Regions from separate parts of the Homo sapiens genome. Here region 1 is linked to region 2. A link means that fine-mapping ties the variant in region 2 to the expression of a gene that starts in the linked region. Tissue or cell type: B cells. Region 2 holds a variant in brackets; the other region holds the start of a gene. All regions are shown on one strand. Distances are between the middles of the regions.

The links. PIP is the estimated chance that this variant, and not a neighbour inherited with it, causes the effect.
Region 1: KCNC4 starts here. The variant in region 2 is fine-mapped to the expression of KCNC4 in B cells (Schmiedel 2018, PIP 0.95).

Annotation. Positions count from the first base shown.
Region 1 is chr1:110,206,698-110,214,799 of GRCh38, reverse strand. KCNC4 (potassium voltage-gated channel subfamily C member 4) reads right to left here and starts at 4,486. Exons shown (of 4, transcript NM_001039574.3): 1 at 2,623-4,486. The coding sequence starts at 3,300. It overlaps KCNC4-DT (KCNC4 divergent transcript), which reads left to right and starts at 4,813. Exons shown (of 2, transcript NR_046546.1): 1 at 4,813-5,189; 2 at 5,596-6,350. RefSeq lists an enhancer at 2,001-2,889 and silencers at 4,127-4,806, 6,769-6,818, 6,829-6,888.
Region 2 is chr1:110,415,467-110,423,555 of GRCh38, reverse strand. It overlaps LAMTOR5-AS1 (LAMTOR5 and SLC16A4 antisense RNA 1), which reads right to left. Exons shown (of 3, transcript NR_102697.1): 3 at 7,282-7,547. Among named protein-coding and RNA genes, the nearest start is that of LAMTOR5-AS1, 12 kb to the right of the region's middle. The variant C/A (reference allele first, on the strand shown) is at 4,533.

The sequences.
Region 1 (8,102 bases), 210 kb after region 2:
AGGTACAGAACCTCAGAAGGACATTTCTCAGGCTACAGTAAGAAACAAGCTCTCTGCCTCAAAAACAGCCTAGTTCAGTGGAAAGAAGGTGTTGTAATCACAAGAGCAAGGGCTTGGGAGTCAGGGACTCTGGCTTTGATTCAAAGCCTGGCCACTATCTGGCTGTGTGATCTCAGGCAAGTTGTTTACCTTCTCACAGCCTCAATCTATTAAACGGGGATAATCACCGGGTTTTAAGTTTATTGGGAGGATTAGAGATTAATGTAAAGTATATACAGCAATGTATCTGTCTGGGGTGCTCAATAATGAGCAGTTATTCATTAATTTGTAAAAATTATGTATTCCCACTTGTGTGTCCCGGGAGCAGGTGAGGGTTGCCTTTGCCTGGGCTCCTGAGCAGGAGGCAAGTCCTCTTTTAGTGCATGTGTTGGCCAGAGCTCCATCCAGATATTCACATCAGGATGAACAACCAGAAGGCTGGAAACTAGGGGTGGTTTCCTGCCTCTGCTATTAGTTAAATGTCTTTGGCAAGAAACTTAATGTCTCTGAATCCTGGTTTTCTCAATGTTTAAATGGAAGAATTAACCTTGCTCCATCATAAACTTCAAGACCTCAACTGGAATGCCTGGGCTGATGTGATTCCATGTCAAAGGGGCAAAGCACCCTGGGTTCCTGGGAAGACTTCCAGGGGCAGGCCAGGCTCTGAGCTTACTCAAAGAGGCCCCCTGGCTTGGCCATTCAGCAGTGAGTTAGGAAGAAAATAAACTCAATGATATGTGGGGTGCCACCTGGAATTCCAGAGGGGAAGAAGAGCAGGTGAAAAGCCCCTAGAAGTCCCAGAATGCTCAGAAATAGGGCCTAGCTCCCCTAACCACCTCATCTCATCCCTGCTTCCCTGGTTTGTCCCCTTTCCCCATCTCTATCTCTATCTCTCCTCCCCGACCCCCAACTTTGAAAGAGTCTGAATGATGTGTGCCTGCCCTCTCTCCCCTAATGCAGACAGCCAAGTGCTAACACTAGCAAGGTTAGTGACCTACATGAGAAGTCTGTAGAACTCACAGCAGACCCAGGCCAGGGGCATCACTATGCCCTCACCTTCTTAGCCAGTCTCAGGGCTGCAAGGAAAGAAACCCAGACAGTTGCCTCTAGCTTTGTTGTCAGTCCTGAGAAAGATCCCTGCCTTCTCGTGGCTGCCTGCAGCCCCAGCCCGGTATGCCATGGCCCCTGAGACCTCTGCTCCTCCCTTCTCTTCCAGGCAGAAGATGCATCTGCCCTGGCCTGGCATTTATGCCAGCCTGGCTTTTCCCTGCAGGCCTGTTCCCCAATTCCCTACCCTGCCTTCTTCTATGACTAGGAAGGAGTCCAGCACAGGGGTGCTGGGAAAGGGAGGGTGCTCTGAGACTCATTAACATGACAATTTGGGATGCTGGAGGAACCAACCAGGTTCCACAGCAAGCAGCAGTCCCCAGACCCAACAAGTTACATTGCTCTTTCCTGTCTCCCAGACAGACTCCAGCCAGGCTTTAGGCTGCTGACCATGAGATCCGACACCAGCCCCCAGAGTTTTCTTTCTTTAAAGAATCTAAAGCCATCCTTCAGGGATTTTTTTTTTTTTTTTTTTTTTTTTTTAGCTGTCGAAGCATAATGGGGGAAGCACCTCCCCCGTTCTCCCCTTTCACCTAAAGGAGTTAGGGAAACTGGATTTACTTGGGGAGGAGGCGGTAGGTCTTGCCTAAATCAACCTGTGCTTCCCCCTTCCCTCATACACCCATTTCAAGCAGTAACCTGAACCAGGGCTTTCTGGAAAGACAGTTTGTGCTGCAGCAGAAAGAAAAGAAGCGGCAACAAAAATCTGGTATCATCACCAGGAAGCCTGTGGCTGGCCACTGGCCGTGGGAGCCTGCAGAGCCTAGAACGCTAGGCCCTTCGTGTTTAATTCTCCTCTCACCCCAGCTGAGGCCAGGACATCCCAGGTGTGCAGGAAGCCTCAGGGGCATGGTATCCTCCCTGGCAGAAAGAATGCCTTTCTTAAACCTGGAAAGGAGGCCGGATTGTGGTCTCAGCTTTGCCTCTTCTGAGCTTAAGATGCTGAAGCCTATATCCTCCTCTCTGAAGTGCATAGTTGTGAGCACACTGAGCTGCTGGGAGGATGTAAATGAGGTGGCACGGCATGGAAGCATCTAACAAAACCCACCCTAGTTTCCTTCCTCTCAACCCTGCCTGCCCCCATCAGAAGACCAAATTCCAGCTCTTCCAGGACCGTAGTCCTGTGTGGAGTGGAGGGCAGCTGAAGATAGGGCAGCCTGTGCAGACCAAAGAAGGGGGTGGAGGAGCTGAGCTGGGCACCCCACTCACTGGAGGGGATGCGGCAAAGCAGGCAGCTGGGACTGGGTCCAAGTAGTAAGTCAAGTGTGTGCAATCTCCTGATGGAGCGTGCAGGGGAGAGGGTGGGAGTGTGTAATTCCCCTGCGAGCCACGGAGGGGGGTTGAGAGGAAGGCGGGAACAATCTGCGGTGGTAAGGTAAGTCAGGCTCGGTCCCTGCTCCTCCCGGCCCCTACCCACCACCCACCACGGACCCCTTGCAGACCCAAGATGGGGAGACACGGGCTCCTGCCACTCACCCTAGCGGCCCGGGAGGAGTAGGGATCCTCGAAGAGCGCCCACATGCGGGGCTGCCAGCCGCGGCAGCCCCCAGACCCGGCGCCATGGCCCGCGCCTCCCTCGTGGGGGCCCAGTCGCTGCAGGGCCAGCTCCCGCTCATCGTCGCCGGCCTCGTCGCTGGGCCCCGCGCCGCTGCCGCCTCCGTCCGGGCTCTCGAAGATGTCGAGCGCCTCCTCGGCGTCGCGGTGCTGCCGGTAGGTCATCCAGCAGCAGGGTTCCACGTCGGTCTCGTCGATGCCCCAGAAGGTGAGCTCCTCTTCGAAGAGCGGCCCGCACACGTCCGCGGGGCAGTGCAGCTTGCCGGTGCGGTAGTAGTTGAGCACGTAGGCGAAGACGCCCGGGTGCCTGTCGAAGAAGAACTCGCAGCCCCCGCCGCCGCTGCTGCCGCTGCTACCCACACCGCCGCCATCGGTCTCGGGCCGGCCCCCGCCGTCGGGGTCGGCCAGCCAGGCGAGGCGGGTTCCCGGTAGGGTGCGCAGGGTGCTGCGGTAGGTCTCATGTCGCGTGCCGCCCACGTTGATGATGATCTTCTCCGACGCCTCGCCCTTGGCCATCTCCTCCTTCAGACATGTTTTGGACGGAGGCTTGTTCCCCGACTTGCGCCCGCGGTAGGAGGAGACACACACCGAGCTGATCATAAGAAGCGCTGCGGGGCTCCGGCTTGGGGCGGCCGCTGCCCTCCAAACACCCTTCCCGAGGAGGCAGCGTCAGACGGGGGAGGGGGAGGAGACGAAGAGGAGGCAGGAGGCGGTGGCGGCCCCCTCTGCGGCTTGGGCTTGCCCCTGCCTATCCCCCTAGGACGCGGAGCGGGAGGAGTTGGATTTCTCCGGTACACAGGTGGTTGGGGTTAGGGCAGGAAGCTCCGGAGAGAGGGAGGCGCAGAGAGGGAGGACCCGGGGAAGTAGAAGCAAGCACACACGCGGTCCCCCGCTACGACGGGACACACAAACGCTCTGGGCCGGGGACACGCCCCCGCCTTCACCCCGACCAAAGACGAGGAAGCGCACAGTCCACGCGCACCGCGAAGGTCCGGGGCGCTCGCGCTCACACGGGCCACCCTCCGGCTCCAAGACCGCACCAAGCCCCGGAATAGCCGGCTTCCCCGCAGCGGCGGCAGCGCAGCAGCAACAAGTCCTCCGAGCGGCTGCCGGGGCCAGGCCGACACTCTCACGGCAGCCGGAGCTCCGTGGGCCCGGGCTGCTTGCGGTCAACACGAGGCGGCGGCGGCGGCATGTGGCCTCTTCCCCCCATTCATAAATCCAGCGCCGGGCGAGGAAGGCAGGCGGGGCAGAGCAGAGAGCGGCGGCCGGGCGGGCGGGGGCTGCGCAGGGCGAGGCGGCAGCTGGAAAACAAGCGCGCCCGCAGGAGCGAGCCTCGGGTCCTGCGTCCGCGGCTGGGAGCTGCGCCGGACCGGGCGCAGCGCTGCGGGGGCCGCGCTGGGGCGGGGGTGCCTCAGACGGGGCGTCCTGCGCGGCGCCGAGCCTGGGGGGCGGGGCCGCTCTGGGGAGCCGGGCTCTGGGCACTGGCGAAGGTGTACCGGGGGCGGCGGCCGAGCGGCCAAGGACACCTGCAGGCTTCCCGGGCCGCGCGGAGAGGGAGCCTCAGCGCAACGCCCCGGCGCCTGGTTCCTGCGATCTGGCGGCGCTGGGAGCCACGCCATCTACGCGTCTGCCCATCTCCGGGCGGGGCGCCGGCCTTGGCTCGCGCGCGGCAGGGGGCGGGCGCGAGGTGGCATAGGGGAGGGGGCGCCTCGGCGCCGGTGGGCTGGGGCCCTAGGGGCTCATGGTCTCCCTCCGGCGCTGGCAGCGGCCGCCACGCCCCAGTGGCGCCTTTTCCTCCGGGGCCCCGCCTCGCCCAGACGCGCCCTTCGCGGGGCGGGGTGGGCGGGGCGCGGCGCAGCGCGGGGCCGATCCGACTCACTGCAGGCCCTGGCGACCGAGCGCAGTCTTCCTCCCCGGAGCCGAGCCCCAACCAAGCGCGTCACCTCCTCGCCGCCAGTGCCCAGCCCAGCGCGCCGCCCCTGCGCGCTTCCGCCGGCAACCCCTCCCGCCCCCCTCAGCCCTGCTCCGCGCCTCCCCCGGGCCCGCAGCTCCTCCCACCGCAGCCCGCTGACACCGAAGCGCTCTCGACCCCTGACCTCTAACCTCCGCCCGGCTCTTCTTGCTTCGTCCCTCGCCCCCTCCCCGCCAAGCTGGTCGCACTGTTGCCGTTTCACTGCGGCTGACGGAAGGCCAAGGAAGAAAGAGGGTAGAGACGCTGTCGCGAGGATCAGGCTGCCCTCTCCTTTCCCAGGGACCGTGTTGGGGCCTTCTGACCACCCCGCCCCGCATCCTGCGCCTCGGAGGCCCAACGTAGCCCAAGACACCCATGGTCTTGATGCTCTCCGCCTCTGTCCCAGCCACCAAAGTCCCCGCGATGGAATGGAGGACGGGGTGGCCTTGGGCAGAGAAGCGCTTCTTGTGCCGGATGGAAGGAAACCGTAGCTCTGGCTGTGTTCATCGCGAAATGTTTTATGGATGTGGAGTGGGTGGGTGGCCCTGAAAAGTCATTAGTTAAAGCCTTTGCTCGTCATTGCTCTGGGGTCCACATAGGAAATGCCCGTGTCCTGCCTCATGACCCCTTCCTGTTTCTACTCTTATTCTACCCATTACAATTTGACTTTGCCTGTGTATATGTCTCCTCTCCCCTCCCTAACCCTGAGCTCCTGCAGGCGGCATTGTGCTTTTTCATCTTGATAGCTCCCACAGTGCCTGCCTCTGAGAACCTGTTTGCTAAGTGATTGAGAAGCTGCCATACCCAAAACGTAGGCACCAACAGGACTTTACTGGCCCTATCCCAAGAGCAATTTCCAGATTCATTTGTTTTTGTTAAGTCCAGAACCTATTTTACATCTTCATATTAATCCCCATTGGGTTTTTTTTTCTTTTTTACAGCTTCAGGCAGCCTCCATGCCTGTCTGGATGATGTAAAGAGATCTTGAGGCAGAAATGAAAGGTGAATGACACACCTGCCCTGGACACCTGTGCACCTTCCCAGTTCCAGATCAGGCAGTACCTAGCTCAACTGAGAAAAACAAGACAAGGGCCTATGTGTGTCTCAGGAAAGGTTAAAAGCTCAGTGCCAATGCAAGGGATTTTTACAAGCAAAAGTCTCATTATTAATGAGGCCAGAAAACCAAAATGACAATGATCTTTGATGATCTGTACTGACACGCAGGGGAGGTGAGTTAATCAGAAACACACATTTACTGGCACCCCCTTTGTGCCCAGTCCCTGCTCCTCGAAACTGATGTTTGTATTTCAGAGTTTAGCTGTCTTTGAGTTTGCTGCAGTGAAAAGAAATATCCCAAGTGTGACTGGGAAGAGAAGACCCGGGACAGGCCAGAAACTGGAGTGAGGAAGAAAGAACCACAGAATATTAATGTAATGAATAACTTTCAAGTCCTATCTGGTCCGTGTCCTGGCAAAGTCCCTTGGGGTCTCTCCCCTGCTTTCCGTTCATCAGGATGACTGAGCTCAGTAATTGTAACAAAGGGAGTGTAGTAGGCAAGGGGACAAAACCCATAGTATCCCACCCCTGATTGACTTATTAACTCAATGAACACTTATTGAATACCTACGATATGCCAGAAGCAGTTCCGGGTACTGGAAATACATCAGTGAATAAAACAGCCACTCATCCTAGTAAATCTGCCCAACTGGTGCTTCCACTCTGCGGTGCTTGTGGATAGTGATGAGCACCTGGGGAGATGGGTAAAGGGAGAAAGCTGCCAGGGAAAAAGGAGGCCAAGAGGGAAGGGAGGAAGATCAGAAAGTTGGGACACAGGCATAGGAACCTAGGAAGAGCTGACAAAAACAGAGGGCCCAGCCTGAGAGAGGCAGCTGGGTAAAGGTGCATGGGGCCAGGACTCCCAGCTCTGTGCACTGACCAGCTCGGGAGAGGGGAGCTCAGCCTCAGTCCTGAGGCCTCCAGAGAATGCCTCACCCTTGCTGAAGGTTTATTCTAGAACTCTGGGCTCACCTGTTACGTGTACCTCTCTGAGGGAGTCGATATGCTGCAGTTAGCACTATGGGACTTGTCCCCATCATTTCTTTGTGTGAGGTCTTGGTGTTCCCTCAAAACACAGAGCCGGGGAAGGATAGGAGAGCCCCCTGCCCAGGCTACTGTGACACAGCCTACCATGGATGTGAGGGTGCTGCCCTCTGGTGGTGCTAGAACATCCTGGCTCCAGACCTCGCCCTGAGCTCTGGGGGCTGTGATGTGGGCAGATGGGGTGGCAGCTGATTCTGGGCTTCCTGTTGATTCCAGGACCTCAGGTACATCTTCTAGCCTAACTCTGCCATTGGGACTCTGCCTACTCCCTCCCTTCTTCATTCCTCCAAGACCTTGATACCTGACAGGCTTAAGCAAGACCACAAAGCAGCCACTATTGGAAATTCCTAGTTCCCCAAGCTTCTTTCCCTCATTTTCACCTTTTCTCTTTTGTCCTCTCCTTAGTGCCCTGGCTTCTTCAGGCTGTCAGGGAAGAGCACCTGTCTGAAAGCCAGTTCACAGAAGGTGTCAGCCACAGCGGGTTTCCCTCATCAGGGGTGAGGGTGTGGTGAAAGAATAGGAAGAGAGGGCCATGGGAGATTCTAAAGGGGCACCGATGGAGGCTGTCAAGCACCTGCACCCTTTCCAGGCCCCCCCTCCACCCGCATAATAAGGTCCTCACCCTCTGAGTGCCGACGCTGACCCTGTCCGTAGGAAGCTGAAAGCCTGAAATCAAAGCCGTTTACCCTTCCCCTTTCCCCACTGGGAGCTTTGTATGGGCTCAGCCTCTTTAGGATGACTGGAGCCATCCAATCTCCTCTCCATCTTCCTTCTTTGAAACCTGTTTGTGGTGAGGGGCTCCAGGCCAAGGCAAGGTTCTATCCATTGGTGCTCACACTTTCCCTTTTTGGTATTCTAGCTCCTGCCAGGGACTGACCCTCCTTCAGGTCCAGGCCAAGGAGCCAGCATCCTTTCCCAGCATGCCTCACTCTCTCCCAGCCTGGAAAATTGAATTGCTTTATCAGACTCATTAGAGGGTGATAGGGCCTCCCCGCTCATGGGGGAACAAGAGAAGGGAAGGCAAGAGCAGGCTGGCAGCCTCCTGTCTGCGTCTCAGCTCACTTCATCCTGCCTCCCCCAACCCCAAGCAGCCTGCAGAGACTTGCAGGCTCCAAATCAAATGTGAGAGCCTTCTTTGGGGGGAGGGGGGTTGGTGGGGGAGGGGCTCTGGGGAGAACCTAGCCCTAGTAATTCAGGTCTTGTGAAGATCAGTAGAATGGCTCTGCCTCAGGACTGAAAGCAGGGTTGGGTTGCTGTGGTAATCCCAGTGAAGTTGTATCTGGGGCTCAAAGGTGGCCTTTGAAGGCCCAGCTCTTAAAGAGAAGAGATCAGAAGCTCGGGCCTGGGC
Region 2 (8,089 bases):
CTGTAATCCCAACACTTTGGGAGGCTGAGGCAGGTGAATAGCTTGAGCTCAGGAGTTCGAGACCAGCCTGGGCAACATGGCGAAACTCTGTACAAAAATACAAAAATTAGCTGTGCTTGGTGGTGCATGCCTGTAGTCTCAGCTACTTAGGGGCTGAGGTAGGGGGATTGCTTGAGCCTGAAAGGTGGAGGTTGCAGTGAGCTGAGATTGTGCCACTGCATTGAACTCCAGCCAGGGTGACAGAGTGAAATCTTGCCTCAAAAAAAAAAAAAAAAGTCATTGTCAAATATAATACCATGGACCTTTTTCCCTATGTTTTCTTCTAAGAATTTTATAATTTTAGCTCTTATGCTTAAGTCTTTGATCCATTTTGAGTTAATTTTTGTATATGGTGGAAGGTAAGGTAAGGGTTCATTCTTTTGAACATGGATATCTAGTTTTCCCAACACGATTTGTTGAAAAGACTGTGTTTTCCCCATGGAATGGTCTTGGCACCCTTGTCAAAAATCATTTGACCATATATGCAATGGCAAGTTTTATTTTTAACCTAGAAATTTTAACATTTCCTTTTAAATGACCATAAGTATTCATTTCCTCAAAATGCTCTTTGAATTAGCTTAACTACATTATTGGTTCCCTCCTTCATGAGTTGCTAAGTCTTCGGCATGTGTCCATTTTATATTTGAAGGAGGTATATTGTAAATATTTGAATATTATGCTTTTACAGTAATGTACAAAGTGTTATGGGAGTCAGGGTGAAGATCATTTCTAATGGGGGAATTCAAAAAACTTTTCACGTCCAGGCGCGGTGGCTCACGCCTGTAATCCCAGCACTTTGGGAGGCAGAGGTGGGTGGATCACTTGAGGTCAGGAGTTTGAGACCAGCCTGGCCAATATGGTGAAACCCCGTCTGTACTAAAAATATAAAAATTAGCCAGGCTTGGCGGCACGTGCCTGTAGTCCCAGCTACTTGGGAGGCTGAGGCAGGAGAATCGCTTGAACCCAGGAGGCAGAGGTTGCAGTGAGCTGAGATTGTGCCACTGCACTCCAGCCTAGGCAACAGAGTGAGACTCCTTCTCAAAAAAAAAAAAAAATTCACTTTTGAGATCGGCCTTATGATTAATGCATGAATTTTTGGTAGATAGAAATCGAAGTTTGAGGCAGACATTTCAAACTCTGGAGACAGCAGGATGAATGTTTTTCTTCTTATTTACTTTCATTATTGTGTGTCTTACTCAATCAAGTCTAATAGCTGTAGGGTCAAAGAAGGAAAGCTCCCCCTTTGCCTTCTGAAGGTCCACTGAAAATACCCTAACAAAAGGCAGATTGATAAAAGAAAAAGGCATACAAAATTCATTTAACATGTGGGGTAGGGATCATAGAAGCACGATCACACAGTCATCTAATGAGATCCAGACAGAAACTTATATACCCTTCCTCATAGGGGAGTGGGAGATGGAGAATGTTGGTAATTCTTTTGAGGAGTAGTAAATGATTCTTAGGGAGAATGAATGGGCGTAGAAGACACAAATTGACGTGTAAATGACTCTTTAGAATTTGAATGAGTTGGAGAGACAGATATTGTTTTGTGAAAATACTGTGTAGTACATTCTGTGTTACATGTTTTGTGTAAATACTGTGTAGTATGTTACATTACTGTGTAATACTGTGTATTACATTCCCCAGTCTTCTTTTCTGCCATAGATAATGAGATTTCAGGAAGGGAATGGAACGCAATTGTGTTCTCTTTGGCAGATCCAGTCTTGTGGTAGATAAGGAGATATCAGAGTAAAGCTTCTTCCAGCATCAAAGGCCTCTAACTTAAAATAACCAACATACCAAAGTGCCATATTGTAGTCACCCAGTGGGTCCTTCTTGCCCACTGCACAGATAAAGCTGATTCACTGACAGCAGTACTGCCCTAAGAAAGAGTTTAATTAACATAAGGCTAGCCACACAGAAGACAGGAGTTTATTACTCCAATCAGTTTCTCTGAGAACTCAGAGGTTAGGGTTTTTATGGATATCAATTTGGTGGGCAGGGGGCTAGGGAATGGGTGGTGCTGATTGGTTGGGGATGAAATCATAGATAGAAGTGTGGAAAACGGTCCTCTGGTGCTGTGTCAGACTGGGTAAGAACCACAGGACCAGCTGAGTCATGAGTCATGGGATCTGGGTGGAGTCAGTCACCAGAATACCAAAGTCTGAAAAAGATCTCAAAAGACCAATCTGAGGTTCTACAATAGTGATGTTATCTATGGGACCAATTGGGGAAGTTACAAATCTTGTGAGTGCCAGTGCAATAAACGATGACAGAAAGGCAAGCTATGCCTACATCTTATCAGAATTCAGGCCCCTTCCATAATCCTAATTTTGTGGCCTTTCATTAGTCTTACAAAGGCAGTTTCAGTCCCTGAACAAGAAAGGGGTCAGTTTTAGGGAGGGACAATTATGATCCTGGCTTCAAAGTTAAACCATAAATCCCTCCCAAGATTAGCTTGGCCTATGCCCAGGAATGAGACAGAACAGCCAGCCTGTGAGGCTAGAAGCAAGATAGAGTCAGCCATGCCAGGCTTCTCTCACTGTCATAATCTTTGCAAAGGTGGTTTCAACATTTTGGGGTGAACTTCCCTGGACTCCTTCATGGCCTACACAGATGGAATCATTCTACATGAGGAAACCCAGAGAAAAGTTTCTTGCCTCTCTCACATACTGTTTCTCTTCACAGCCCTTCATGAGAGACCCCTGTTACAGCTCTAGGTCAGCCCAGCCCCTCCCAAGCCCCCACCTCACCCGCTTTCCCTACCCTGCCAGAGGCTGGAAAGGGCCTCAGCCTTTCCATCAGCACTTTGGGTCATCTCTGATTCTGCCTGAGCTAGGGAATTGCATTTCCCGACTGTATCATCCCATCACATGAGACATTCATGAAATATCACCCTGACAGACTCTTAATGTTATCAGCATCAATCACAGGGATCAACGGCAAACACGCCTGAGACAGAGCAGCCATCTCTGTCCGATCCAGAGTATTATTAATTGGGAAGCTTGTTTCTGGCCGCAGAGGCTGAAATCTGCAGCCCTGGAGTGACCTTTGCTTTGGCCGCCAAGTGTCCCTGGCTGAGGCTGGCAGCAAAGCCCTCTCTTGTGGTTCTTTACTGTAGAAGGTTCTTCTGTCCCTGGCTGAAGCAAGGAGTCAGAACTGAACACTGACACATGCATTCTGAGCATCTCAGGTGTGCACATTCCTTCTTGGGTTTTTTGAAGTCACATTGTTGTGGTCCCCAGGCCTTCCTAACCCATGACAGTGGCATTTTCTGAGACTCTCAGCAGCCAGGGCAGCCTGCACTGTGGCTGGACACGCTGGATGTCCCGGTTTCCAAGGGCCCAGAGCCCATCACTGTCCTCCACCGGAAATTCACACATGGAAGTAACTGAGAGGCACCTCGGCTCACTGAGCCCCACTTGCTGGCAAGACCCACGGCCTTCAGCTTCAGCACCCCCTCCACCCTTCCTTGAGCCTCAGCTCTCCAGACACCCTGTCTGAGGCCCCCACTCATTCCAGCCCCTCAGCTGTGGTTCAGCCTCTACAACCCGTAAAAGGCACATCCTCTTGGGGTCAGCAGGGCTCTCTAAGGTGCTGACCAAGGATGGAGTGAAGCAGGGCTGTCTAGGTGGCTTTCCAGGCTGACTGATCTACGTGTACTGCGTGTGACTGACGGCAGGCCAAGCGTTGGCTGGACTGCATCTGATTTCATTCTTCACTAGCTGGGTAACCTTGGGCAAGTCAACCTCTATACACCTCAGTTTCCACATCTGTACAAAGGTTCTAATAATAACACTTACCTCATTTAACAATTAAGGCTTCTGGATAGTAAATATAAAACATGGAGTACAGAGCCTGGCAATAATTAATCCTCAACAAATGTTAACTATTTCTTGAGGGGCAGGAGGTGGATTCTGTCCTGTTTGTGTGAGTGTGTATATATAACATAAAGTCTCGGGGAAAGGAAAAGTGGAAAAAGGGCCAGAGAACTTGCTGTTCATTTCCCCAGACATTGTCTTTGCTGATCAATGTTTTTACCAACTCATAAAGGAGGTTAGTCCTCATTTCATATTCCCTTGTCCAGAGAGTGATAAACTGTCATCTCCTTAAAGTAATCTATGCTGCTTTCGAATCAGCTCTTCTCCACCTTGACAGATGGGATTAGATTCATCTCACTTCCCCTTTGGCAATTGAAAATATCAATGAGATATTAGTGTGCTTGCCTCTGACTTTCTCCTGGGGCAAAATACTGATGGTCCAGAATGAATGTGGCAGTTGATTTACTGTGTGGTGTCTGAAGGCACACAGACAAGTCCTCCTGTTGATGAGGGGAAATGGGGAGAAGGGAACCCCTAGCCACTTTATGGGACTGGCTCACAGGCCTGTGTTGTTCAAACTAGTTGAGGAGACACAATTGCAGAGGAGCCGACTCACCTGGGCCAACTCACTCAACATTGCCTGGGAGAATGGTCAGCCCCAGTATTAGAGAC[C/A]CAAGACAATGAAAATTTTCAAGTTCTATGACCTTGACCAGTTAGTTGACCTCTCCAGACCTCAGTTACTTCATTCACAAAATGGGGATAGAGTCATGGAATGACTGTGAGATTAAATGAGATAATGTCCATGAAAGTTGTCAGAATCAAAATGGAATCACTAACAAGAAACCCCTGATAAATAGAGCTAGGGAAGGCCCTGAAGAGAGCATTCTCATGCTTGTATGCCTGGTAACAAAAGCTATCACAAAAGATTGCAAAAGCCACAACCTCCTACAAAAGCCATTACAACCTTACACAAAAAAGACTTCTGCAAAGACATCTGCCCAGCAACTGCCTGTCCAACCTTGGACTCGCATCACCCTTGTTATTGATCTTTATAGCCAAGGATAATTATTTCAAAACAATTATGTAATTCTCCACATTTTTTCTGTTAAAAACCTTTGTCTTCCTCTACCTCCCTGAATACATGCATTACTAAGGCAGGCATATTCCTATGCAATGCTCTATTCCCAAATAAATATTCTTTTCTTTTATAGAGACTCTCTTTGTTTGTTATTTAGGTTGACAATGGATCTGCTTTGTAAATGTTGATTTTTCATCTTTAAGTACCAGAGTAAATGCAATGTTCTTGAATGAGATACTGACCAAACTTACAGATATTAAACTGAGGCGTGGAGAGAGGTGGCATCCATAGCAGTCAAGTAAATCAGAAAGTGCTGCCTTTGCTGCTGTTGACCGTTGTGATTACCCCAGTTTCTGCTGCCTCCTTGGGAGCTGGAATAATGCACAGGTGAAGGGTTGGAGAGGGTAAGTTTCCTATGAGATTTCCAAAGGGAATTTCTTCACTAATGAAACAATCATTCACTGAACACCTATGAGCCAGATGCTTTTCTAGGCACCATGAAGGGTAAAGACAAGACACTGAAGTTTTAAAAAGGCCCTGATTCTGGCTGGGCATGGTGGCTCACGCCTGTAATCCTAGCACTTTGGGAGGCTAAGTCGGGCAGAGCACCTGAGGTCGGGAGTTCGAGACCAGCTTGACCAACATGGAGAAACCCCGTCTCTAAAAATACAAAAAAGTTAACTGGGTGTGGTGGCGCATGCCTGTAATCCCAGCTACTCGGGAGGCTGAGGCAGGAGAATCGCTTGAACCTGGGAGGCAGAGGTTGCGGTGAGCCGAGATTGTGCCATTGCACTCCAGCCTGGGCAACAAGAGCGAAACTCCATCTCAAAAAAAAAAAAGAAAGAAAGAAAGAAAAGAAAAAGGCCTTAATTCTGAGGTTTGGTGCTTCACTATTCATCCTCCTCCCTCTCCCTCTCCCTTTCTCCCAACCAGGAGAGCTCTGTCCCTGAAAGGAATGGGGAGAGACAGATGCCTACTCTATTCAAGTCCTCTCCTAGAATTTGGTGCCTGTCAGCCAGCCGTGGTGGCTCATATCTGTAATCCCAGAAGTTTGGGAGGCCGAAGCAGGAGGATTGCTTGAAGCCAGGAGTTTGAGACCAGCCTGGGCAACAGAGTGAGATCCCCATCTCTACAAAGAAAATAAAAAAATTCAAAAGAATGTGTTTCCTGGAAACAGTAGTGCAGGCCCCAATCTCCGGGCAGGGTCATGCGTGGAAGCTGTTATTGGTAATGATCGTTGGTCTGAAAAGTTTCTCTTACCCAAAGTTCAAGTTGAGTTTTTTTTTTTTTCATTATCTCTAGCTTATTAACTATATAGAGCACAAACTCCTTCAGTGAGGAAGCCCTGTCTGAATTATTATTGCTATCTGCATAGAATTTGGCAAAGTAGGGGTAAGGGATCCATAAAGAAATGGAACTGTGGATCTACAGTGAGACTCTGAGATGCTTTATGATGACCCTTATCTCTAGGAGCACAAAGTACAATGATCAACACTCCCAAATTCCATATTAGTCTAGGCTCATGCAGGAGAGAAGGTAGAATGCACCTCTCCCGTTTGTCAAGGAGTGGAATGCTGCCCAGTAAAGTTGTTTGGAGACATTGTGGAAGAGGCTGTGGTGTCAATCCCTCCAGAGGGATTCTTGCTTTGCATGAGGCAGAACTCAGGTAGGACATTCACACTCAGAGGTGTCCTACTCAGTCTAAGCTTCTAGTGACAAAGCTTCTAATCACACATGAGGAAAATGCCCCTGCTGGTCTCACACTCTGGGAGCAAGAGTTCTCCCTCATGCAAAGCAAGAATCCTTCTGGATGCTTTCATGCTGCTCACCCGCTTTTGAATGGCTTTGCTATGTGTGGGCCACTTTCAAGACAGTTACATAGAGCAGAGCATTTTCTCTCCAGCCTCCTTTACAACTAAAGCCAGGTATGTGATCCAGGCTCCATCACTGCTGGGAAGGGCAGCAGTAGAGGCATCTGGCTTCAGGGGAAGCAGTGATTGCAGGATTACGTTCCTCCTGCAGAGGGGCATTTTCCTCATGTATGATTTGAAGCTTTGTCACTAGAACTTAGACTGAGCTCTCTAGTCCTCCCAGTTCCACAAGCTACCCAATGTCATTTTAATTAACTTCCTTTCCTATTCTTTAAACCAGCGTCAGCTTCTGTTGCTTGCAGCTAAGAATGCTGAATGCAGTCTAATCCACATTTGCCTCAGCTGTCATTTCTTGAGATCCTAATGACAACAGCTTTCATTTGTTCAGTGCTTACAATGGTGCCTGGAACTGTGCTAGGAGCTTTATATTGCATTGTCTCATGAAATTCTCATAATGACACTGCAAGGTAAGTACTGTTTCTAGTGAATTTATCTTCCCATTTATAGTGGGGGAAAACCGAGGTATCAAGGCATCAGAGGATTTGTCCACAGGCTTACAAGAGGGTACTAAAGTGTTGTGACAGTAGACCAGTTCTTGGATTCCAAGGGGAATGTGGGAGTCCGGAAGAAATCTTTGCGCTCTGCTCTCCATGCTGGGGGGTGCAGAACTCTAAGCAGGTCATTTTGTCTCCATGACATTCTCTTCTCTGAGGTAAGAATCAGTAACACCCATCTAATCTGGAGATGGTGAAATAAAGACAAAAATATTTTACTGTCCAAGAAGGATTTTTCCAGGACAACAGCAGAGGTAGTTGACAATGGTACATATTGTTACCCCACAAAGAGGGTCTCTGAAACCCACTGGGGAACATGGGGTGGAAATGGATGCAGAGCAAAAGAAGCTGCAAGCCTGAGTTTGACTAAAACCCTCAGTGCACAGGCCTGCATCACAAATACGTTTTAATACAGGTAATTTCTTTTCCATTCATTTGTAAGCACTTATTTCATTTACCCAATTCCAAGGCCAATAAATCTTGGCATTAAGGCTGATTTGATGTGTATGCTGACAGTCTAATTAAGGATAGGGTATTTTATCAGCTCCTCTAAATTTTCATTTCTCTGGTCTATGATTTTTTTATACTGGGTTGATCTTTTTTTTATTCATAAGGGCTTCATTCCCATTTGTCATGGCTGCATTAACTGGGCATCTAATGAAGACTTGGATATGAAAGTCTGCATCTCATTTATCCTCTGTAGCAAAATTAATAAAGCAGCAGGAA